Linked DNA regions of Homo sapiens. The protein of the gene in region 1 interacts with the protein of each later gene in a pairwise test. Each region holds a gene or a part of one and is shown on either strand. Other genes may lie near its edges. The genes, in order: PRKAA2, CCNB1IP1, WFS1, ZMYND12, KIFC3, SAXO4 and ANAPC11.

Region 1 (3,500 bases):
CAATATGTCATCTTTTGTGTCGAGCTTCTTTAACAATGCTTTTGAGATTCATGCATGACATAGCATGTGCCATTAATTTGTTCCTTTTTATAGTTGAATAATATTCCATTGTGTGGATATGCCACATTTTGTCTATACAAAACCAGTTGATGGTCATGGTTTCAAGTTTTGGGCTATTATAAATAATGGCACTACGAATATTCACATGTAAGTCTTTGTGTGGACATATGTTTTCATACACCTTGGGTAAATAACTAGAAGTAGAATTGCTGGGTCATATCGTAGTTTTATGTTTTACTTTTTGAGAAACTGCAACACTTTCCCAAAATGGTCACACCATTTTATAACATTCCCATCAAAGATGTATGAAAGTTCCCTTTTCTGAGTATCTTTGCCAACATTTGTTATTGTCTGCCTGATTTATTATAGCCATTCTAGTGGGTGCGAAATAGTATCTCATTGAGGCATTAATTTTGCGTTTCCCTAAGGACTAATGATGTTGAACATTGTCTCACGTAATTACTAGTCATTTATGTATTTTCATTGATGGAATGTCTGTTTATATCTCTTGCTTATTTTCTAATTGGGTTACTTGTCATCTTATAAGTTGAGTTGTGAGGATTCTTTGTAAATTGTGGATACAGATCCTTTAATGGATATATTTTGCAAATATTTTCTTCCAGTCTGTTGTGTCTTTTCATTTTCTTGTGTCTTTTGAAGTATAAAAGTTTTGAATTTTCATGAGGTCCAATTTATTAGTTTTTAAAATTATTTTATGGACTATGCTCTTGATGTCATAGGCAAGAAATCTTTGCCTAGCCCAAGTCTCAAAGATTTTCTTTTATGTTTTCTTGTAAATATTTTATTATTTTAGCCCTGATGTTTAACTATGTGATCTATTTTGAGTTAATTCTTATGTATGGTGTGAGATGAGGTTGTAAGGTTAACTTTTTCCATGTGGATAACCAATTGTCTCAGCAGTTTTTGTTGAATGCAGGTGCATTTTTAATTGTTGTAGATTTTAGACATTGCAAAATGAATTTCTACTAAAAAAGCTAATAGGAGATGATGTAATTTTAAAAGCTTGGCCAGGTGTGGTGGTCCATGCCTGTAATCCTAGCACTTTGGGTGACCAAGGCAGGAGGATCCCTTGAGCCCAGGGGTTCAAGACCAGCCTGGGCAGCATAGGGAGACCCTGTCTTTGATTGATTGATTGATTGATAGAAAGATAGATAGATAGATAGATAGTTAGATAAATGGTTATAAAAACATGGAAATGGAGAAGTAAGGAACATTTTATGTGCTTTCTCTCTTGACTTTTTTCCTTTTTCTTATTTGTTTATTAATTAGTTTTTTTTAGGGACTATGTTGACCAGGCTGTTCTCAAACTTGTGGCCTTAAGCAGTCTATCTGCCTCAGCCTCACAGTGTTGGGATTACAAATGTGTCCCACCATGCCCAACTTTGACTGTTATGCTAATTATAGATTTAGAAATTTTAGGCCAGGCACGGCGGCTCACGCCTGTAATCCCAGCACTTTGGGAGGCCGAGGTAGGTGGATCACTTGAGGTCAGGAGTTTGAGAACAACCTGGCTAACATGGTGAAACCTCATCTCTACTAAAAATACAAAAATTAGCCAGCTGTGATGGTGCGCGCCTGTAATCCCAGCTACTTGGGAAGCTGAGGCAGGAGAATCACTTGGACCCGGGAGGCGGAAGTTGCAGTGGGCCGAGATTGTGCCACTGCACTCCAGCCTGGGTGACAGAGCGAGACTCCGTCTTAAAAAAAAAAAGAAATAAAGAAATTTTAACTTCAGTTGTTGATATATCAATTTATGGACCAAAGTTAGGGACAAAAAGCAAAAATTGAAAATGGAATAGTTTTAACAGCAGTAGTTTTAATTTGTTTTTTAAAAGTATATGGAAATCTTTGTATTTGTTAATAAAGCCTTATTTAAAATGTTTTAAATTTTGTCCTTCATTAGTCTATTGTATTATCAGGTTGCTGAGGGACTGTTTTTGGAAACAGATTATATGGGCTGACAGAGTTTAAAAGTAATGCTTTTTATCTATTTAAAATTTTTCTCTATATTGACTGTTTAGGCTCTCACTCTGGGTAGGGTAAAACTGTTAGAGAGTTCTTGTAATTAGACTTGTTCATTTCTTATCTAACTTCTCTAAAGGTGATAGAAATTCTAGAAGAATGGTCCTGTTGTTTGTGTTATATAAAGACTGATTGAAGAAACAAAATTATAGTGCTAATTATTTATTTAAAAAGAAGCCTGCATTTTCAAGATGAGTAGTAGTATATATGTGGTTTATGATTTAAACAAATTTTTTTCAACATTTTACTCCAGAAATATGTTTACCCATATGTGGTTTATGAAATAAATATTCTTCATTGGAATTGTACACCAAGGGATACTTAGGTTCTTTCTTGTCGGCAAAGTCTCACGAAGAAGTTACCCTTTCCATTTTTCAAATAGTTACATGACTGGCCTACAGACTGCTTTCAATAAATTAAGTAAATATTTTACTAATTCCCCACTTGTTTTTGAGATAACAGGAAGGATAAACCAAAACTTAAACAAACAAACAAAAAGTGTTACCTTATTTTGAAATGTAAATATCAAGTCCTAAATGATAAATCAAATTTCACACAACTGTCCCATCAATTGATGGAGCTAAAAGTTATGTCTGTGGTATTTTGGTCCCTTGCTTGACTTGTGTGCTAGTGTGGAAGCCCTGAACAATTTAACTCCCTGGGCCTTGTTTTCTTCCCCTCCTAAAGGATAACACTGGAGTAGCGAATCTGTGAGGTCCTTTACAATGCTATCATTAAACCGATTTTTAAAAGATTTAACTCCAAAAAAATGGGTATATTTAATTATTCATCCTGGTTAATGAAAATTTGAGTTCCTGAGTCTGAAATGTAGATGTAATGTAGAACAGGGGAAAAGGAAACATATTTTCAATACTTCAGTGATAAAAGGTACAATTTGATTAAGTTGTTACTATATTCTAATCACTGTATGATATATGCACTTGATTTTTTTTTATTCCCAGAGTAATCCTCTAAGTTTGGTATTATCTCCATTTAACAAATGAAGAAATTGAGAATCAGATACTTTAAGTAACTTGTCCAAAGTTCCAGTGCTATTAAGTGGTAGAGCTAGCAATCAAATTCAGGGTTCTCAGACTGCAAAGTCTCTGCTCTATGGACTGTAAAGTCAAAATGCCTAGTATGTTCTGAGTTTCAAACCTACAAGGATATAATTTTCTATGTCTGCTCATATTTATCAGAATTGAGAAAATAAGATTTAAATGTCTTTCAGTCCATATTTAGAGATAAATAACGTTTTTTGAAATGCCATATATAGATGATTAAAATTTATATTTTTACTTTTCCAACATTTACTTGGATGCCTCAATCTTTCATTTCTTATTATAAAATGTGCTGAATTCTACCAGTTTTAACCCATGTTTATTAGAAATACTAGT
Region 2 (3,500 bases), on another chromosome or scaffold:
ATCTAGGATCATTTCTGGAAAATTTAAAAAACATAAATAAATTCACAAAGGTTATGATTACATGACAACTCACACCAGCATGTTCTATACCAAGTCACAAGAAAATTTAGAGTAACCGTTCATCCTTTATTTAACTCTCCATTCATTAATATAAATTATTGACTCATCTATTTGGAGAATGTCACCAAATGCCCAAGCTCAATATCAAATAGGGCAGGATCAGGAGTTCAAGGTTACAGTGAGCTGTGATCGTGCCACTGTACTCCAGCCTAGGCAACAGAGTAAGACCCCGTCTCGAACAAAACAAAAAAAATTTAACAACAACAACAAAAAAAAACCGAGCAGGACCCCTACACAAGCTTAATTTTGTATAAATTTACAAGCTTGGATAAAACTGCACAATAGTCTAACCAACTTCTGAAAGGCTATAAAGGTCAACAACCTCACAGTAAGAAAACAGTTATGCAAGAGGAAGGAGTCAAGAACTTTTAAGATTCAGATAACTGAGAAAATAATCCAAAATAGTCAGTTTTTTCAAAGCATGTTTCAATTTCATTTGAGCCAATGCCGGATTGTATTTAACCTTTACTCTTCGTAATCCTTTGTCAAAATAATCTGAAGAAAATCTTCCCTTTATATAGGAAAATTGAATTAGTAACATTTGTAACCCAAGTCTGCCACAAGATGGCAGTGTAAGAAAGAGTCTTGCTTTAATTTCCTCTTCCAGCATTTGCGTGTCATCTGAACTTTCAGGTCAAATACATACTAGATACGCAGTTCATCTTTGCAGGCAACCTTCACACTATTCCCTACTCTTCACCTAATTACTAGCTAGAAAATTTTTTGTATTTACTTGTAATGATCATCTAAAACTTGTTAGCTAAAAATACTGCAGTTATACTTTCATCATTATGTTCTTTTTCATGCAGCAGTGTGGAGATTTAAAAATCCATAACCTCAGATACAATCTAGCCAGAAAGACAAGACTCACAGAAATTAACATACCACCAAATAAGTAGTAGAAAGCAAGTAAGGTTAAGAAAAGAAGTAGGATTGGTCAAGGAAGGCTTCATGAAGCAAAAAGAGTGGGTCACAAGTGGACCTTAAAGTTGCATGTCCAATAAGTAACCACTTAATTAGAGTTAAAAATTAAATTTCTCCCATTACCCTAGTCACATTTTCATTACTCAATAGCTAAATTGGCAGTACAAACATAGAGCATTTCCATCATAACAGAAGGCTCCATTGGACATCAGTGCCTTTAAGAATGGGTCTAAAATAAGCTGACAGAAAAGAAAGCAGTGGCTATCATTCTTTAGAAATCCTATCTGTCAAGCTGTATAGAATTTGTATCATTTAAATTTTACAACCCCCTATTTACAGGAAAATTGAGGCTCAGAAAAATTACATAAATTTCCTAAGGTCACCTAACTAGTAAGAGCTAGGATTTAAATTCAATTCCATCAAAACTCCATACTCTTCAATTCACCATGGTACTTCCTACAGGAAATACACAGAGCTAAAGGTTTGCTTTAAAATGTAATGCAGTGACATGCTAGCTCAGTAGGTTGGAAAGAAACTGAAGCATTTTAAATATCTCAGACAGATATGATCAAAATGTTATTTTACTCCTTCCTTGCCCTATACTTAGCTTTAACTATGTAAAATGTTTTCAGATCAGCAGGATGCAAGGTTAACTAAGAGAATGTAGACAAGAAGCAAGACATGGTGTGAAAGGTTTCTCCAGTTTTAACAATGTCTACCTTAAAACTCCTTGATCTCTCCAAACCTAAAATAAATTTTTTTAAAAAGGAAATTAAAAAAAAAACTACTTGATCTAAGTATTCTTACAGGATAATAATTATAGGTTGAAAGGAACAACTTCTCTATTAATCTCAACTCACAAACAAAACCCAGATTGCAAGAGGCCTGGTCTTTTTGTTTTGACACATAGCACAAAGCCTGGCACATAAATCCTGATGTTAAATATGTGATACCTTTCCCAATGTGTGATGCTTCCCTGCAGGATTCTAGTCATGCATGCTTCAACAAGTGTCATTCCACCATACAAAGGACATTTCGTATTTACTAAGTATTGTGCAAATGCTCCATAAACAATCAATGATCCCAGCATTTTGTTGACTGTGGGCAGTAATCACTTCAAAGTACTAGTGTTCATAGCCAAAAGGTACATTTTATATGTGTGAACAGATGCTTCATGAAGGCCTAATACAAACTACAAATTGATACTAAATCAGCAGATACTCGTGTTAAGATTTCATCACCATTCCTTTTGACTCTATTCCAATTTACTCAGTGCCACCTAGCATTATAGGATACAATGGTAACTCGAATCTCTAAGCTAGGCTTTTTAGATAGGAAAGACACACATACGTGTAATGAAGAGAACTTAAGGCAGCTTATCTTGATCAAAATTCAAGTACCAGGCTTTAGGTACCATCAGCCTTTAACCCTTTCTGTTGAGAATATCCAAATCCAAGCCCATATGATTTTCAGGGGGTCTACAGATGGGCCAGTTCTGGACTGGCACACAGGGTGCTGGACTTCCCTCCTCAGTGGATTTCATCTTCAACCTGAAACAAAATGAACACACAAAATTTTGTTCATAGGAAGTAAATACTAGACTAATAGCTTGGTATAGTTTTCCTTTAGAGATAGTTATATAAGGTACTGCTATCAGAACAGACTCCAAGTTTTATTTCCCACTCACTATCAGTTTCCTTCCTTTTTAAGGCAGAATAGTATTCCACTGTACATATGTATAATATTTGCTTTATCCATTCATCCGTTGATGGACCCTTAGGTCAATTCCGTATCTTGGCTTTTGTGAATAATGATGCAATGAACATGGGAGTATAGGTATCTCTGACATACTAGTTTTATTTCCTTTGAATATACCCAGAAATGGGATTTCTGGATTATATGGTAGTTCTATTTTTAATTTTTTGAGAAATTTCCATACTGTTTTCCATCATAGCTGCACTAATTAATATTCCCTAAAATAATAGATTTTGAAATCATACTAAACTAGATTTTAATCCTGGCTCTCTCATGTATTTGCTGTGCCCATGGGTAAGTTATGCAACTTCTCTAAACTTCAGCTGTCCCCTCTGTAAAATGAGGACAAATACTACATACCTCTTAAAACTTCCGTGAAGACTGAGGTAATAAATACATTTTGCACTGTAGCTGGCATGGAGTTAAATGTTTAATATGTTATTTCTATGTCTTGCCCAAGCTCAACCAGCTAGTGAGTAGAAAGGCAAATATTCTGCCTAAAAATTTCACACTTTTCCACAGCCATAAAAAAAAAAAAAACAAAAAACATGTCCTTTGCAGCAACTGGAGCTGCTGGATGCTGCTGGGGGCCATTATCCTAAACGAATTTATGCAAAAACAGAAAACCAAGTATTGCATGTTCTCACTTATAAGTGGGAGCTAAATCTTGCGTTGGGAGCTAAATCTTGCGTAGGGAGCTA
Region 3 (2,916 bases), on another chromosome or scaffold:
TGCAGCTGCTCGGGTGCCCCCAAATGACTAAGTTCTGATTATAATCCCATGGGGTCATCACTGCAGGTTAGGGAACACAGGAGGTGGTTTCACAACACACTCCCGCATGGACAGCAGCCCCCACGCCATCAATCACCCTGTAGGCTCCACTTCATGGGTAACTGGAATTCAAAGATAATTATGACCGTGCACTTTCCGCTCAGTAAGATCTGAAGATGGCTGGGCTGACACTCCATGGTCACCTTCAGCACAGGTCTCTCTGCACAGGCAGCCCATGCCCAGGCCACCCCACAGTTACGGCAGATGCCCCAGGGGCCCCTCCAGCTGGAGATGAAGCCAGGGTCTCGCTGTGGCAGGAAGCCATCAACTGTGAAACATCAACCTTGCTCTTTTATAACTCAAATTGCACTTGCATTTCATTCAACAGGAGTGCAGGCTCTGCTGATTCTCACGCACGTACAAGAAAGACTTCTTTTCGGTAAAGAAAGGAAGGAAAGCGCTGCAGGTTCCACCAGAGGCTTTTATTTCAGCCACTCAGGACCCTGGCTTTCTGCTCCAAGGCACTGAACACAGTCAGGCTCTTCTAAACACTGGCAGGGACCTCCCCCACAGCCGCCCCCACAGGGTTCTCTGTTTCCCAAGTCCTGATGGATTCAGGCAAGACCTTCACACATTCACCCACTACCTGCTGGACAGGAGGGTCATGAGGCAGCCTGTGGTGCCCAGCTCAGTGTGACACACTGCCAATGTGCCGCCTCCCCCAGCCTCTGATGGGGCCGGGCCTTGACCACGTGACAGGCTCAAGCTGCCGTGCACATCCCCCAGGAAAGGGGAAGAGCTGCTAAGGTGTAGCAGTGACCAAACAAATAAGAAATGCTACTGTGGAGGTTACACAGATGCTTATTTGGTTTTTAAACAAATCCAACACAAAAGAAAGAAAGAGGGAACAGGGTGCTTGAAGGTGGGGGAGGAGAGGGAATCTCATCTGTAAAGTGCTTTTCCAGACACCGGAACCTCCTAGTCTAGCCTGGCACACCCATGTCACTCAGAAAGGTCAGGCTCAGGGTGGAGATGGCATGCAATTCCCAACACACTTGGTATTCAGAGTGGACAGAGCTACACAGCAGCCTTCCCTTTGTCGGGGTCCACGCAATCTACACATGGTCGCAAGGTCTCTGCAGCCACAGTCTGCACACGTGGGCACAGGCGGCACTGGTGCATGCCTGTCGGGCTGGGGCCACACTGGGGAAAGGCCTCATGGCAACATGCACTGGAAGCTCCTCGTGGCGGACCATCCTCAGGCCGCCGACAGGAATGGGAAGAAAAAGAAGTCGAAGGCGAACTTCACGGCGCCATGCACGGTGCTGCGCCAGTCGTGCTCGATCTTCACGTGCCGCCTGGTGGGTGAGAGCTGGGCCATGCAGTTGAGGCAGCTGATGGCCTTGAGCTCGAAGACAGGCCACTTGCTGCCCAGGCGGCCCTCCAGGATGGTGCTGAACTCGATGAGGCTGCCCTGGCGCAGGCTGAGCAGCACGCTCTTGAACTCGCTGCTGGCCCGCAGCACGATGTCCTTGGTGACGTCGTCCTCCTCGCGGCTGCGCGAGCCGTCAGCGCCGCTGCTGAATGGCATGCCCACGGTAATCTCAAACTTGTAGCGGTCGAACTTCTTGATGTGGCAGGGGTGCTTGGCCAGCAGCTTAAGGCGACAGAGCTCCTCCTCGGCCGTGGAGGTGTTGCCAGGGCTGCAGGCAGGGTAGGCCTCGCCGTAGAGGCAGCGCATCCAGTCGCCGATGAAGAACGGGAGCATGTTGATGGCAGACTCGGCGCTGTTGTCGATGTCAGTCACGCGGACGTACTTGAAGCGGCCGGTCCACGTGACCCTGTGGCCCTCCAGGTGGCTGCAGAGGATCTGGGTGCGCGCCATGTTGGTCTCCTTCCAGGCGCGTGGCCCGCACAGCGCACCATACTGCTGCCAGGTCAGTGTGGAGTTGTAGACCTTCATGCCCTCTGAGCGGTACACATAGAACCAGCAGAACAGCACGATGGCCGTGAGCCACACCAGGATGAGCTTGACCATGGAGCTCCGCGTCAGGGACTTCACCATCCCCACCACAGAGAAGCTGGCCTTGGTCCACCAGCGCAACAGCAGGGGCACACTACAGACCGCCACGGTGACTGCGATCTTGGTGAGCTCCAGAGACGTGAACCACCGGGCGAACTGCAGCACGCCCACCAGGGCCAGGCCGGCCACCAGGATGGGGAGGGCAAAGAGGAAGAGGAAGTAGCCGATGGAGGCGCGGAGCAGCCCCAGGCCGGTGGACTCCAGCAGGATGACCACGGAGAGCTCACACCACATGAAGCACACCAGGTAGGGCACAAGGTAGCAGTAGGTGCCCTTGAAATTCCTCAGCTGTGCCATGCGGAAGAAGAGATAGAGCAGGTAGACATAGAGCAGGCACGGGACGCTGACGTTGAGGACGACCAGGTGGCCGACAGGCACGGTGATGAAGGTCTGGCCAAGGACCTTCAGGTAGGGCCAATTCAAGGGCATGGAGGGCAGCAGCGATAGCAGGCCGGCGGTGACCTCGGTGGCCAGGGCCCTGCGCGTGTAGGGCTCTGCATGGGTGCTCAGGCTCAGGTAGCTGGTCACGGTAAAGAAGCCGGTGATGACAGCCAGCTCCGAGCAGGGGATGCAGTCCTTGCTGGCGATGGGGAAGGAGAAGATGACGAAGAAGACAGAGAGCAGGAAATGGGCATAGGGCTCCAGGTGGTTCCAGCCGAAGTTGACCTCGGCCTGCTCCACATCCAGGTTGGGCTCGAAGCGCAGCAGCAGGTCGGTGAGGGTGCGGAAGTTCTCCCAGGCCTTGCTGTCCTGGAACACCTTGAGGGTGCAGATCACCATGGAGATGAAGGACA
Region 4 (3,500 bases), about 14 Mb from region 1:
TTTTTCTTCTTCTTCTTCTTCTTTTCTTTTTCTTTTTCTTTTTTTTTTTTTTGAGACAGGATCTTGCTCTGTCACCCAGGCTAGAGTGCAGAGGCACAAGCACGGCTCACTGCAGCCTCAATCTCCTGGGCTCAAGTAATCCTCTTATCTCAGCCTCCCGAGTGGCTGGGACTACATGTGCACACCTCTAGCCCGGCTGATCTTTTTATTTTTATTTTTAGTAGAGAGTGGGTCTCATTATGTTGCCCAGGCTGGTCTTGAACTCCGGGACATAAGCAATCATCCCTCCTCAGCCTCCCAAAGTACTGGGAATACAGTCATGAGACACTGTGCCTGGCTAGTTTTCTTTATAACAGTTTCTACTATCTGAAATTATATTACACATACATATGTTTATTTCCACTCCTCCAAAAAACACCAGTGCCATAGAGATAGGAAACGTATGGATCACCACTGTATCCCCAGTCCCTAGATTAGTGCTTTACAAATGGTAGATTTTCAATAAATGTTTGAATGAATGAGAGAATCAACCAATAAGTCAATAAACCTGAGATATGCTACTTGCTGTCTGTAAGACATTGGGCAAAGAATTGACCCTCTCGGTGCCTCAGTTTCCTTGTTTGTAAAGTAGAGATAATAAAATAGCTACCTCATTAATGTTGGTGTAAGCATTAAGTATGATAATTATGTAAAGGGTTTAGGCCAATAACTGGTAGGTAAAAGTACTCAAAAAGTTACTTTTTGAATCATTTCATGGCAATGCATTTCTGCCTGAATCCCCGCAGCAACAGGGAACTCAGTAACTGAGTGGAGTTAGAGCGGCTACTTCATCCATCCAAGGCTCCCCAGAGCCTTCCTGCCCTGCAGGCTTCCCAGCACTGCCTCAGACTCTCTTTATCTATGCAAGACTGGGAACCCTCGGGGGAAGAAGACAATCCAATTTCCATTATGCAGGCTAGACTCAACACAGGAGAAACATCGTGAGCATCTGAACCTCTTTGGAGTGAGGGCTTGCTCTGAGGGCAAAAGCTATTGGAATTGGGCAAAACACAAATTTTGAGTTCAACTAGTTGAATTTCTACCTTCATTTTAGACGTGTTGCTTTTTTAGGGAAACTTGCCTTTGAAGAATTCATCATCAGGTAGTAAAACATGACCAGGATCTTCAGAACAAAGATGGTTTTTTGGGGGGCTTTGTCAGATGTAGATTCTCGAATGTTCAAGATTGAAGTCAGGATGCGAATGGCTTCTGCTTCTTGGGCTTCATCTGCATTGGAAGGGGAAGAAAGAAAAAACAGGCTCTTGGCAACTGAGTCTGCCCTCATCAAAAGCACTCAGCTGTTAAAGCGCCTGGTCTGCTGAAGCCTTCCCAAGGGCACTGGTGGAAATAGCACCAATTACAGCAAGTTTTTTACCTAGAGGACTCCCTCCAGGTGCAAAGCAGGAAGCTCCGAAGCAGGAGTTTCAGACCGCTTTCCAGCTTTGCTTAGCATGCCATTATCAGAGTAGCCTAAAAATAGGCTCACTCCCACAGGTCCCAAAGTTGCTAAGGTTTCTCTCTTTCGGAGTCCTGAACTCTAGATCTCTTGGGCTTACAAACACAGATAATCTGCCACAGGCAGATTCCTTGGGTCCAACTCAGATTCCACTCTACAGCTGAGAGGAGAGAACTGGGGGAAGGGACTTCTTGCAGCTGCAGCAGCTTAACTCTTCTCGTCTAGGCCATAGATGCGTAAGCAACAACCTTCATGCTTCCCTCTGAGAGTCTGTTTACTATTTTCCCCAGTAGTTTTTGGTCCTACTTTAGTCATCATTTACTGAGAAGTCACTACATGCATTTAAAAGCACTTATACAAGTACTAAGCTTAGAGAAAAAGACGAAAAGGATATACACCATCATGTTAAGGTTGGCTATCTTTGGATATCTATGATTTCCAAGTTTTCAGCTATAACATGAACTATTTACATAATGAGAGAAAATTCAATAAAGTTATTAATTTTTTAAACTTTAGCTCAAAACCTCTCCTCCAAAGAGTCTTCCTTCTTCAACACCACCCAGCTGTCCTCACCTCTTCATTCTGGGACTCATCTTGTAACATAATTTGTACTCACAGGAATGTTCTTTTGTTATTGCCTATAGGTTCTATATCACCAACTGCACTGTATGTCTCTTTTGAGCAGAAACTAGATCCTCTGTGTCTTTTCATTGTCTCTGAGGGCATGATGCTGTACGGTACTATTCAACACTTAGCCCTTTGCTGGCCCGGGGAATACAGTTTAATCCAACTGGGCCCTGCCACTGAGAAGCTCACTGTTCAGTAAAGCATGAAGTTAAGGCACCAGAAGAAATCAGCAATGCACCTTCTGTGTAGAGTCTACCTTGGCTTACGTGTCCTGGAGCAAGAGTCCCCAACCCCCAGGCCATGGACCAGAACTGTTTTGTGGCCTGTTAGGAATCGGGCTGCACAGCAGGTGGTGAGCAGGGGTGGTAGGGGCGAGTAAAGCTTCATCTGTATTTACAGCCACTCCCCATTGCTTGCATTACCACCTGAGCTCCACCTCCTGTCAGTTCAGCAGCAGCATCAGATTCTCTTAGGAGCGTGAACCCTATTGTGAACTGTGCATGCAAAGGATCTAGGATGTACACTCCTTATGAGAATCTAATGCCTGATGATCTGTCACTGTCACCCATCACTCCCAGATGGGACCATCTAGTTGCAGGAAAACAAGCTCAGGGCTCCCACTGATTCTACATTATGATGCATGGTATAATTATTTCATTATATATTACAATATATTAATAATAATAAAAACATAGTACACAATAAATGTAATGCACTTGAATTCTCCTGAAACCATTCCTCCCACGCCCCCCAGTCCATGGAAAAATTGTCTTCCATGAAACGGGTCCCTGGTGCCAGGGAGAGATTGGGACTGCTGCCCTGGAGGGATAACATAGAAATGGATGCTCTGCAGAAATCACAGGGGGCTTTGATGTGGTCTTTTTTTCCCTCTAAATCTGTCCCTTAGTAACCCCCGAATGGCTATGTGTGATGATAGGGATCTGAATTCTTCCCAACACTGGTAAAATCTCTTTGATCCCCGTGTCTCAGTTTTCTCCATCAGCAACATGGGGAAGGTGGCAATGGTGTGCTTCATGACAGGGACAGCTGCTTTCCCTCTTAGGGACAAGGTCTGTGTATTGGGTGAGATGAAGTCACTGCTCTCCCTTCAGGGAAAACTGCCACTTACCCAAGCCAGTGTCATTCTCAAATAGTTTGCCCAGTAAATCCATTTGTTGGATGTGAGCCTGTGAGAGGACTTGATAGTGATTGTTCAAATATGCATGCCAGATCTCAGAGACCTGTTGGGAAAAGAGATGGTAATACAACAAGCAGGCCAGACCTCAGCCGTCGGACCAGGCAGGTGAGGAGAGTAGCGCATTTGGCCGGGCTTCTGGACAACCTGGAGGTTCTCTCTCTTACTGTGCCTGGAGGCAGA
Region 5 (3,500 bases), on another chromosome or scaffold:
TGGGCCCATAGTGGGTCAGGGGAGGTGGACACCCTTCAAATAGCTATCTTCACTTCCTGGCAGGAAGTGGCCACTGCAGTGACGGATGGGGAGAGTAGTCGACAGCCCAGGAAGCTCCACTAGGAAGTCCTTCAGTTACCCCCACCTCAATCTTAAAACCCCATGTTGCCTCTCCAAGCTGACTTCGCTTCTTCTGTAAATGACATTACTGTCTGAGTCTGGGACTGTAGCATGATCACCTTAAATGTCCTCAAGGTTGCTTTGCACACAGTAGGTGCTCAATAAAGACTTCTGCAGGGAATACCTGAGCTCTGTTCATTTGTTCAGTTCATGAGGGACCTATCCCTGACTGAAGCTTTCTATCCCTGACCAATGCTCTCTGCCCCCCTCCATTCCCCACACCACCTGGTGCCTGGCTCGCACCTGCCGCCTCCAGTAGCCTGCTCAGACTGTGAGGGTTTTTTTGAAGTGTTTATCTCCCTTCTGACTGGGAGTTTTCAGGCCTCATCTCTTCTGATCCAAAAGGACCCCTGGCAGATGCCTGGCACCCAGTAGGCATTATTAAATGAAGACTGAATGAATCTTTGTATCTCAACACCCATACGGTGCCTGCCACATGCTAGGCACAGAGCGCAGGCTAGTCGAATACATGAATGAGAACTTACTGTATATAGACTTCACTTGTCATTGGCCACAGTCAGGGCCCTTTTGAGTCCCTCCTCAGTGAAATGTTAATATTCAGAGCATTCACTGCTCTGCTGACAGGCCTTAGGCAGAGCAGCCTGAAGCCTAAGGGTTAAGCATGTGGTTAAGTGCAATTAGAAAATTAGATGTCTTGGAGGAAAAGGATTAGACTTACGGAGATGCTGCTGACTCGCGGTGCCTCCTCTGTGTGGGGCTAGGACCTGGCTTGTCCTCAGGCTCCAGGCTCAGCTGGGAAGGGCTCAGGTGTGGGGTCTCAGGCACAGCTGATATGCAACTTTCGCACTTCGGAGCCTCCGTATTCGGAAACAAATACCCCCAAAAGGCAGCAGGCCCCATTTCATCCTGCGAGCCCTAGGGTCTTTGGGGGACAGTGCAGTTGGAGCTGCTGCGCTGGGTAACCAGCGACCGGTGGGGCGTAGACCCTTCCAGATGGCTGGCTCTGCCCGAGGTGCAGTTGTGCTGGTCCACGGTCTTCAAGCTTATCTCCCCTTGTTCTCTCCGCAGGCTGCCTGGTGCCCCGAGGAGGCTGCTGAGCCCCAGGCCATGGTCCCCTCTCGCAGGACGTGGAACCTGGGAGCCACGCCCTCGCTGCGGGGCCTGTGGAGAGTGGGCCGGGCCCCGGAGCCCGAGCCGGGGATGGCTCGCCCCGCCCCAGCCCCAGCCAGCCCGGCCGCCCGCCCTTTCCCACACACCGGCCCGGGGAGGTTGAGAACTGGTGAGTCCGCATTTTTAAAATGCCTCTTTATTTCCCTTCCTTCCTCCAGATACCAGAGATGAGACTGAGGTTTCTCACCGGTTCCTAAGCCCAGTCAGAGCTGTCAGGTAATTACAGGGTAACCGACAGCCCAGAGCCAGGCGGGCGTGGAGCCGGAGCGTCAGTCTCGCCGGGCGCTCCTTCCCTGCGCCCCTGTCTGGAAAAGAGGAGACCTGGAAGCCGGGTTAAACTTTAACACGGGTCGGGCACAGAGCAGGGGGAATCAGCTGCATTCCCTCTGGCCAAGCTGGTCAGAGCTCTGCGGGCTGCCGTCCTTGGCCAAGAGCGTGTGGGCTAGCTCCGGTCTCTGCCCAGGCTGGTAAACAAGGTAGGTGAAGTGGCTGCCTGGGCACCAAGCGCCGCTGACACTTGATCCTGCCTGGGCTGGCCCCTGGACGGCGTTGGGAGTGGACCGAGGCTGCTCGGGAACGTGGCCTGGCGGGGCTTGGGGTCCATGTGCTCATTTCAGGTGCTTCTGTAGAGACCCTGACAGCAGGTGGGCAGAGGTCCCAGAGTCTTGGCCCCCACTGTACCCCCCGGGGAGCTGTCAGTGCCAGCTCGCCTTTCTGGGTCATGTCCCCCGGTGCTGCGAAAGTCAAGAAGTGAGCGGCTTCTCTGATTCAGGGCCGGGACTGGATTGGCGGGGCCGCGGAGCTGTCCATGACCCTCTCCCGAGGCGTGGGCAGGTCGCCCTGGTAGTGTGGGGGAGAGAGGGCTCTCCAGGCAAGGTGCCTTCAGGGGTCTGCTCCCTGTCCCTCGTGACCTACAGGAACAGGGTCTAGACTGCCAGCCTGTGAGAGCTAGCAGAGTCCCTCTGGGCCATCAGGTCCAAGCCCCTTGGTGCACAGAAGGGGAAACTGAGGCCCAGAGAGGGCACACAGCAAACTCCTGTTCACCCCTCTCTCCCACCACATTTGTGCTGTCAGTGGCAGCTGGACTGATGCCTTCCGAGGTCTCTCTGCTTCTATGGTTGTCTGGGGCTGGCTGCTCCCAAGCAGCACAGCCAGGCTGGGGATGACCCAGGGGCCTGGGGAAAAGCCTGGGCTTTTGGGCCAGGTAGCCCAGTTGTCTGAAAGGGGCAGAGGATGGCCTCTACCCCATAAGGTTGTCCTAAGTATTACAAATGTAATATGAATGAGTATTGCTTTTCCGGTAAAACAAAAGCATTTTCCCTTAGAAAACTTAAAACACATAGAAAAATATCAAAAAGGAAATAAAAATCACAAGTTAGTCACTGAACATTTTATGTAGTGCCTTCTAGTCGTGTGTGTCTGTGTGTGTGTGTGCATGCATATAGGTCTTTGAAATATTGTGTTATCTCAGCTTTCTAACCTGAAGGAAAAAATTGGGTATTATGAAGATTATATGACCATACAGACTTTTATCCACTTAAAAAATTTAAGACAAAGGTCAGATGAAATCCTGTGTGTGAAATGCAAGCGCCGTGCCTGCCACTGGGCCTCAGCCAGCTCAGCTGCCCCAGGCCCCTCTGAGTCCCCCGACCAACCCCCATATTGCCACCCTGAGAATTGGCTGGCAGAGGGTTGATTAGCACATGGGATTTGAATCCTGGCTCCCTGTGACCCTGGGCACATTGTTAACCCTTCCAGGCTTCCGGTTCTTTGCCTGTCAGGTGGGGAGAATGCCCCCCACCTCCCTGGGGAGTTTTGAGGAGCTGATGGCTACTGTAGTCCTATTGGCCTGTACTGTGGGCCCTTTCTGTGTGCCTGGCACTACATGGGCACCACGTGTATTTCATCCCATTTGATCCTTATCACAGGGCTGTGAAGTTGTCCCCATTTTATTGACAAGCAAACTGAGGACCAAGAAGGTGTGTAAAGGCTGGGTGCTGTGGCTCACGCCTGTAATCCTAGCACTTTGGGAGGCCAAGGCGGGCAGATCACTTGAGGTTAGGAGTTCAAGACCAGCCTGGCCAACATGGTGAAACTCTGTGTCTGCTAAAAATACAAAAATTAGTTGGGCTGGTGGTGCGCACCTGTAATCCCAGCTACTCGGGAGGCTGAGGTATAAGAATTGCTTG
Region 6 (3,500 bases), on another chromosome or scaffold:
TTAAAGCCCAGGTGCCTCCTTGCTCAGGCAAAGCAGCTTCTAGCATCCCAAGGGTAGCTTTCCCACAGAGATGCAGGGCATTGGTGGCCAGGCTGGTGGGCATGGAAAGAACAGGGCAGTGCGAGGGAGTCTGGAGCAGCAGCATCTGCTAAGACATTCCATCCAGCCAATGGTTGGTGGGCTCGATGCTCCCTCAGAAGGTAAATTCTGTGCTGTGCATTCCCTGGGTTAGGAGTGACTGTCCTGGGCATCAGGGAGGGCTTCCAGGAAGGAGGTGGCCCCAGAGCCATGGGGAAGCCTCCTGGGGCCAGGACTGGGTGGGGAAAGCATTATAGGAGTGGTATAAAGGAAGTGTAATTCTTCTTCTTCTTTTTTTTTTTTTTTTGAGATGGAGTTTCACTCTGTCGCCCAGGCTGGAGTGCAATGGCGTGATCTCAGCTCACCGCAACCTTCGCCTCATGGGTTCAAGTGATCCTCCTGTCTCACCCTCCTAAATAGCTGGGATTACAGGCATGTGCCACCATGCCCAGCTAATTTTTGTATTTTTAGTAGAGATGGGGTTTCGCCATGTTGGCCCGGCTGGTCTTGAACTCCTGACCTCAAGTGATCTGCCTGCTTTGGCCTCCCAAAGTGCTGGGATAACAGGCATGAGCCACCGTGTCCTGCCAAGAAGTACAATTCCTTTTTTTTTTTTTTTTTTTTTAAGATGGAGTCTCTCTCTGTCGTCCAGGCTGGAGTGCAGTGGTGCGATCTCGGCTCACTGCAAACCCCGCCTCCCGGGTTCACGCCATTCTCCTGCCTCAGCCTCCCGAGTAGCTGGGACTACAGGCGCCTGCCACCACGCCCGGCTACATTTTTGTATTTTTAGTAGAGACAGGGTTTCACTGTGTTAGCCAGGATGGTCTTGATCTCCTGACCTCGTGATCTGCCCGCCTCCAGGAAGTATAATTCTTAGGACAAACTCCGAGCCAGGAAGCGCAAGCTTTCCTCACAACATCAGTCACCTGTGTCCACCCTGCTTCCTCTCCAACTCCTGGTCCTTCAAGGTGTCCCTGCCACCTCTCTGTCTCCTCCCCCTGCCCCACCCCCTGCTCCGGGATACCTCCCAGAATCCATTCATGGAATAGACTTTAACTGAGCCCTGACTGGGTGCCAAGCCCTGCTCCAGGCCCTGGGAATGTGTGTGCAGCTCCTGCCCTACGGAGCTCAGACCTCTGCATGGGAGGAGACATGCATGTGGCTGCAGCCAGTTAGCGAGAGCTGTTAGGTAATGCGCAAAGAGAAAGGGATCGCGAGGGCTGCAGTGCGCACGGGTCGGATTTGAAATCGGTGGCCTTGAGCAGGTGACGTTTGAACTGAGACTGAAAAGAGGGGAGGGCGGTGTCCTGGAGGAGCAACAGAGAGTCTGAGCTGGAAGGGCCGTTTGTTGTCCTCTGGCCTAAACCCTGAGGCTCAGAGGGGAGGAGCAGAGCTTCCGCCCGCACAGCAGACTCAGCACAGTGGCCGCTCCAGTTCCCACGGAGGTGGGGGAGGGGCAACGATGTTCTGACCCCTTCTTAGGCAAACACCTCCTCCTGTGGCTCTGGCAGAGACCAGCTCCAGTCCTGTCTGCTGGGTCCTTCCAGCCTGTCGTGTCCTGTTGTGTCCTGAGCTCCTGCTGGCTGTCAGGCACGCTTGCTGGTGCTTCCTGGTGCGCGCAGAGCCCCGGGATTGTCATCACTGATTCCTGCATTGATCTGTCTGCACCCCCTCTTCATAAGTTCAAGGGTGGGACCCCCTTCTTACTTGTCTTTGCACCCTCTGGACCTGGCTGTGCTCAGTGAAATGGAAGGAAATGGAAATGAAATGGAAGGAAAGTTAAGTGCCTAGAGAAGTGGATGAGACGGGGTCCCCACCCCAAGGTACTGGCAGGCCAGGGACAGGGGCATCACTGAAACTGTCCTTTAACACTCCAAAGAGTGTTTCAGCGTCAGGTGGAGGGGAGGGCAGGCTTTTTGAGTAAGAGTTCCCCCAGTGGACGTGGGCTTAGGGAGAGCTAGACGAGGACAGCATGAGCAAAGGTGGGGAGGCTGGGCGATCTGAGGGTCGATGGAGAAGGGCAGCAGGGGTTGCAGAGGTGGGCAGAGTCCAGCTTCCAGCCAAGGACCCCTCCTCTCCTCCAGGTACTTTGAGAACATCCCCAAGGGTCTAGACCAGGAAGGCTGGACTCGAGGTGGCATCCAGCCCCAGATGCCAGGAGGCTACGCCCTCAGCCAGCCGGTCAGCTGCATGGAGGCCACCCCCAACCCCATGGAGAGCCTGCGGCACCTGCATCCCCACGTGGGAAGGTGGCACCACCCCCAGCTCTGTTCTTTCTCCCTACCCCTCATCCAGGCCGTGTGCCAGGCCTTTCCCTTCCTCTCCTCTCTTGCTGTCAGTCCGGTTCATTCCTATGAGAGGCCCATCTCCTCTGGCTGGCTCTGGTGTCCCTTCTCCTGCTAGCACAGGCTCCTCCCCTCCTCTCCTTCCAGTGACCCCTCCCTCAGATGGCTCCTCCTCCCTCTCCTGCCCCTGTTCCCCAGGCCCGGTGGACTGGATGGGGAGGATCTGAGCAAGGGGCTCTGGGGTGGTTCAGATCCAGAGGGGGATGCGGGGACGGATCCAGAGATGAATGGACTGTGGTTCGGCCTCACTCAGCTCCTTTCTGCTCAATTCAATTCCTCAGAAATTACATTTATATCAACAATGGCCCAGAGTTGGCAGGCAAAGAATGTTTGTGGCTTGGCTGCCCTGGCTGAACCCTGGCTATGCTCTCTCAGGGAGGGTCAGGCAGAAGACAAGAAGACAAGGTCCATGCCCTGCCTGCCAACACCCCCAACACTCTCCTCTTGCCTCCCTGCAGAACCCTGACCTCAGCTGACCCCTTCTACCAGAACACACCTCACAGCAGCCGCTGCGTGGCACACAGCTGAGCCCTGAGCCCTTGGTAAGGGGCTGGGGATCCCCACACTCAGCTGCTCTGGTTGTGTGGGCAACCGTTATGGGCCAGCCCTGCCTCTCAAGCCCTGGGTTAAGCAAGTCCTGCCTGGGGACCCCCCTTCCAAGTGGGGGGTGACAGATCAGGGGGCCTCTCAGAACCCCTTCTCTGCCAGGCAAGCACACAGAACCACCCCAGAGCCCCTTGCTCAGGCCTCGCCTCTGCTTCTCCTCTACAGGTTTGTCAATCCTAGGGGACAGGAGCCAGGCTACTGTCTGTACCCCCACTCCATCCCCCAGGGGAACACCCCTGCCCAGCTACTTTCCTAATGAAATAAAGAGCATTGAAGCAGAGAAGTGTGACATCACTATCAGGGTGGCTGGAAAAAGGAGGGGTGAGCTGGGGCGGTGGGTGCAGGGGTGGAGGAGCTAGGGCCAGATTTGGAGTCGGAAGGGCTCGGCTGGAACCTCTGAGGAACCATGACACGATGGATAGGCACTTCATTCTCCACGCTCAGTTTCTTGTCCTGTAAAGGGGTCCTCTA
Region 7 (3,016 bases), on another chromosome or scaffold:
GCCAAGGCAGGCAGATCCCTTGAGCCCAGGAGTTCAAGACTAGCCTTGGCAACATAGCAAAACCCTGTCTCTACAAAAAATAAAAAAATAAAAAATTAGCCAGGCATTGTGGAGCATGCCTGTGGTCCCAGCTACTTGAGAGGTGGAGGTGGGAGGATCACTTGAGCTGAGGAATTGAAGGCTACAGTGAGCTATGATTTTGCCACACTGCACTGCCGCCTGGGTGACAGCAAGACCCTGTCTCAAAAAAAAAAAATTGTACTAAGATTCAGTCATCTCAATTTCACCTTAAGAAGCAAAGACAGGGGCGGGTGCAGTGGCTCACACCTGTAATCCTGGTACTTTGGGAGGCCGAGGTGGACGGATCACCTGAGGTCAGGAGTTTTAAGACCAGCCCGGCCAACATGGTGAAACCCTGTCTCTGCTAAAAATACAACAAGGGCTGGGCGCAGTGGCTCATGCCTGTAATCCCAGCACTTTGGGAGGCTGAGGTGGGCGGATCACGAGGTCAAGAGATCGAGACCATCCTGGCCAACATGGTGAAACCCCATTTCTGTTAAAACTACAAAAATTAGCTGGGCATGGCGGCGAGCGCCTGTAGTCCCAGCTATTCGGAAAGCTGAGGCAGGAGAATCACTTGAACTAGGGAGGCGGAAGTTGCAGTGAGCCAAGATCGTGCCACTGCACTCCAGCCCTGGTGACAGAGTGAGACTCTGTCTCGAAAATAAATAAATAAATAAAAATAAAAATACAACAAATTAGCTGGCTGTGGTGGTGCATGCCTGTAATCCCAGCTACTTGGGAGGCTGAGGCCGGAGAATCCTTTGAACTCAGAAGGGTGGGGGTTGCGGTGAGCTGAGATGGTGCCATTGCACTCCAGTCTGAGCAACAGGGCAAGACTCTATCTCAAAAAAAAAAAAAAAAAAAAAAAAAAAAAAAAGCAAAGGAGGCAGATGAGTGTGGTGGTATGCTACTTGGGAGGCTGAGACAGTAGGATGGCTGGAGCCCAGGAGTTCACGTCCAGCTTGGGCAACACAGTGAGACCCTGTCAATCAATATGGGCATGCACCTGGCCCTACAAAAATACGCCTGGTTACTTGGGGTAGTGAGTAGCTTCTCGGTCCTCCCCATTCCCCACTGTCCTCTCCATTCCCCACTGTCCTCTGGGGAGTTCTTCTTGTCCTCCCTGGGCAAAACCTTGACCCTTGCTTCTGCTTTACGCTCATTTCGGTCTCATGAAAAACCATTTCGCTGATGCAAAACTCTGCTTTCAACCTAAACATAATCAAACATTTCCACTTTTTTTCTTTTTTTTTGAGATGGAGTTTCACTCTTGTTGCCCAGGCTGGAGTGCAATGGTGCGATCTTGGCTCACCACAACATCTGCCTCCCAGGTTCAAGCGATTCTTTTGCCTCAGCCTCCTGAGTAGCTGGGATTACAGGCATGCACCACCATGCCCGGCTACTTTTTTGTATTTTTAGTAGAGACGGGATTTTACCATGTTGGCCAGGCTGGTCTCAAACTCCTGACCTCAGGTGATCCATCCACCTCGGCCTCCCAAAGTGCTGGGATTACAGGCACCTGCCACCATGCCCGGCTAATTTTTTTGGATTTTTAGTAGAGTCGGGGTTTTGCCATGTTGGCCAGGCTGGTCTCGAACACCTGGCCTGAAGCAATCCGCCTGCCTTGGCCTCCCAAAGTGGTGGGATTACAGGTGTGAGCCACTGCGCCTGGCCTATGCCATTCAATTTTGAGAATTTTCAAATAAAAAGTTTAAACTAATCTTTTTTTTGTTTGTTTTTTGAGATGGAGTCTTGCTCTTGGCTCACTGCAACCCCCGTCTCCCAGGCTCAAGAGATTCTCCTGCCTCAGCCTCCCCAGTAGCTGGGATTACAGGCACACGCCACACACCCAGCTAATTTTTGTATTTTTAGTAGAGATGGCGTTTCACTATGTTGGCCAGGATGGTCTCAATCTCCTGACCTTGAGATCCATCCACTTCAGCCTCCCACAGTGCTGGGATGACAAGTGTGGGCCACCACACCCTGCCTTGATCTCTTGACCCTGTGATCTGCCTACCTTGGCCTCCCACAGTGCTAGGATGACAGGTGTGAGCCACCGTGCCGGCCTCCATCTCTTGACCTTGTGATCCGCCCGCCTCGGCCTCCCACAGTGCTGGAATAACAGGCGTGGGCCGCCATGCCGGCCTCCATCTCTTGACCTTGTGATCTGCCCGCCCAGACTCTAATCTCTTTTTAATCCCACGTATTTCACAGCTGAGTTTCATCCTATGGAGTCTGTGACAGGATCTTTATATAAACATGGGTACCAACCACCTGGCTTTTTTTCTATCAACTTTTCTTCATGAGATGAAAATGAAAATGTTGGGGGGGGCACGGTGGTTCGCGCCTGTAATCCCATCCCTTTGGGAGGCTGAGGCGGGTGGATCACCTGAGGTTGACAGTTCGAGACCAGCCTAACATGGAGAAAGCCTGTCTCTACTAAAAAATACAAAATTAGCCGGGTGTAGTGGCACATGCCTGTGATCCCAGGTACTTGGAAGGCTGAGGCAGGAGAATCGCTTGAGCCCAGGAGGCGGAGGTTGCAGTGAGCCGAGATCGCGCCATTGCACTCCAGCCTGGGCAACAAGAGTGAAACTCCATCTCAAAAAAAAAAAAAAAAAAAAAGAAAAGAAAGAAAGAAAAGAAAATAAAAATGTGGGCCAGGCAAAGTGGCTCACACCTGTAATCCCAGCACTTTGGAAGGCTGAAGCGGGCAGGTCACCTGAGGTCAGGAGTTCAAGGCCAGCCTAGCCAACAAGGCAAAACCCCGTCTCTACTAAAAATAAAAAAATTAGCCCAGCATGGTGGCACATGCCTGTAATCCCAGCTGCTTGGAAGGCTGAGGCAGGAGAACCGTTTGAACCCGGGAGGCAGAGGTTGCGGCAAGCCGAGATCGCGCCATTGCACTCCAGCCTGGGAAACAAGATCGAAACTCGGTCTCAAAAAAAAAAAA

What was found.
Region 2: the proteins of PRKAA2 (region 1) and CCNB1IP1 interact in binary tests that used the Homo sapiens proteins (3 or more experiments, as listed by UniProt).
Region 3: the proteins of PRKAA2 (region 1) and WFS1 interact in binary tests that used the Homo sapiens proteins (3 or more experiments, as listed by UniProt).
Region 4: the proteins of PRKAA2 (region 1) and ZMYND12 interact in binary tests that used the Homo sapiens proteins (3 or more experiments, as listed by UniProt).
Region 5: the proteins of PRKAA2 (region 1) and KIFC3 interact in binary tests that used the Homo sapiens proteins (3 or more experiments, as listed by UniProt).
Region 6: the proteins of PRKAA2 (region 1) and SAXO4 interact in binary tests that used the Homo sapiens proteins (3 or more experiments, as listed by UniProt).
Region 7: the proteins of PRKAA2 (region 1) and ANAPC11 interact in binary tests that used the Homo sapiens proteins (3 or more experiments, as listed by UniProt).

What each region holds. Positions count from the first base shown.
Region 1 is NC_000001.11:56,648,314-56,651,813, forward strand, and holds part of PRKAA2 (5'-AMP-activated protein kinase catalytic subunit alpha-2), read left to right. Parts: intron 1-3,500. UniProt on the Homo sapiens protein: Catalytic subunit of AMP-activated protein kinase (AMPK), an energy sensor protein kinase that plays a key role in regulating cellular energy metabolism.
Region 2 is NC_000014.9:20,326,780-20,330,279, forward strand, and holds part of CCNB1IP1 (E3 ubiquitin-protein ligase CCNB1IP1), read right to left. Parts: intron 2,595-3,500; 5' UTR 2,395-2,594; intron 15-2,394; 5' UTR 1-14. UniProt on the Homo sapiens protein: Ubiquitin E3 ligase that acts as a limiting factor for crossing-over during meiosis: required during zygonema to limit the colocalization of RNF212 with MutS-gamma-associated recombination sites and thereby establish early differentiation of crossover and non-crossover sites.
Region 3 is NC_000004.12:6,300,850-6,303,765, reverse strand, and holds the end of WFS1 (wolframin), read right to left. Parts: coding exon 1,298-2,916; 3' UTR 501-1,297; downstream 1-500. UniProt on the Homo sapiens protein: Participates in the regulation of cellular Ca(2+) homeostasis, at least partly, by modulating the filling state of the endoplasmic reticulum Ca(2+) store.
Region 4 is NC_000001.11:42,432,023-42,435,522, forward strand, and holds part of ZMYND12 (zinc finger MYND domain-containing protein 12), read right to left. Parts: intron 3,364-3,500; coding exon 3,252-3,363; intron 1,267-3,251; coding exon 1,121-1,266; intron 1-1,120. UniProt on the Homo sapiens protein: Required for sperm flagellum function and male fertility.
Region 5 is NC_000016.10:57,795,992-57,799,491, reverse strand, and holds part of KIFC3 (kinesin-like protein KIFC3), read left to right. Parts: intron 1-1,209; coding exon of another isoform or gene 1,210-1,248; coding exon 1,249-1,420; exon of another isoform or gene 1,421-1,787; intron 1,788-3,500. UniProt on the Homo sapiens protein: Minus-end microtubule-dependent motor protein. Involved in apically targeted transport. Required for zonula adherens maintenance.
Region 6 is NC_000011.10:61,487,620-61,491,119, forward strand, and holds the end of SAXO4 (stabilizer of axonemal microtubules 4), read left to right. Parts: intron 1-2,162; coding exon 2,163-2,327; intron 2,328-2,881; coding exon 2,882-2,951; 3' UTR 2,952-2,965; intron 2,966-3,194; 3' UTR 3,195-3,309; downstream 3,310-3,500.
Region 7 is NC_000017.11:81,894,723-81,897,738, reverse strand, and holds part of ANAPC11 (anaphase-promoting complex subunit 11), read right to left. Parts: intron 1-3,016. UniProt on the Homo sapiens protein: Together with the cullin protein ANAPC2, constitutes the catalytic component of the anaphase promoting complex/cyclosome (APC/C), a cell cycle-regulated E3 ubiquitin ligase that controls progression through mitosis and the G1 phase of the cell cycle.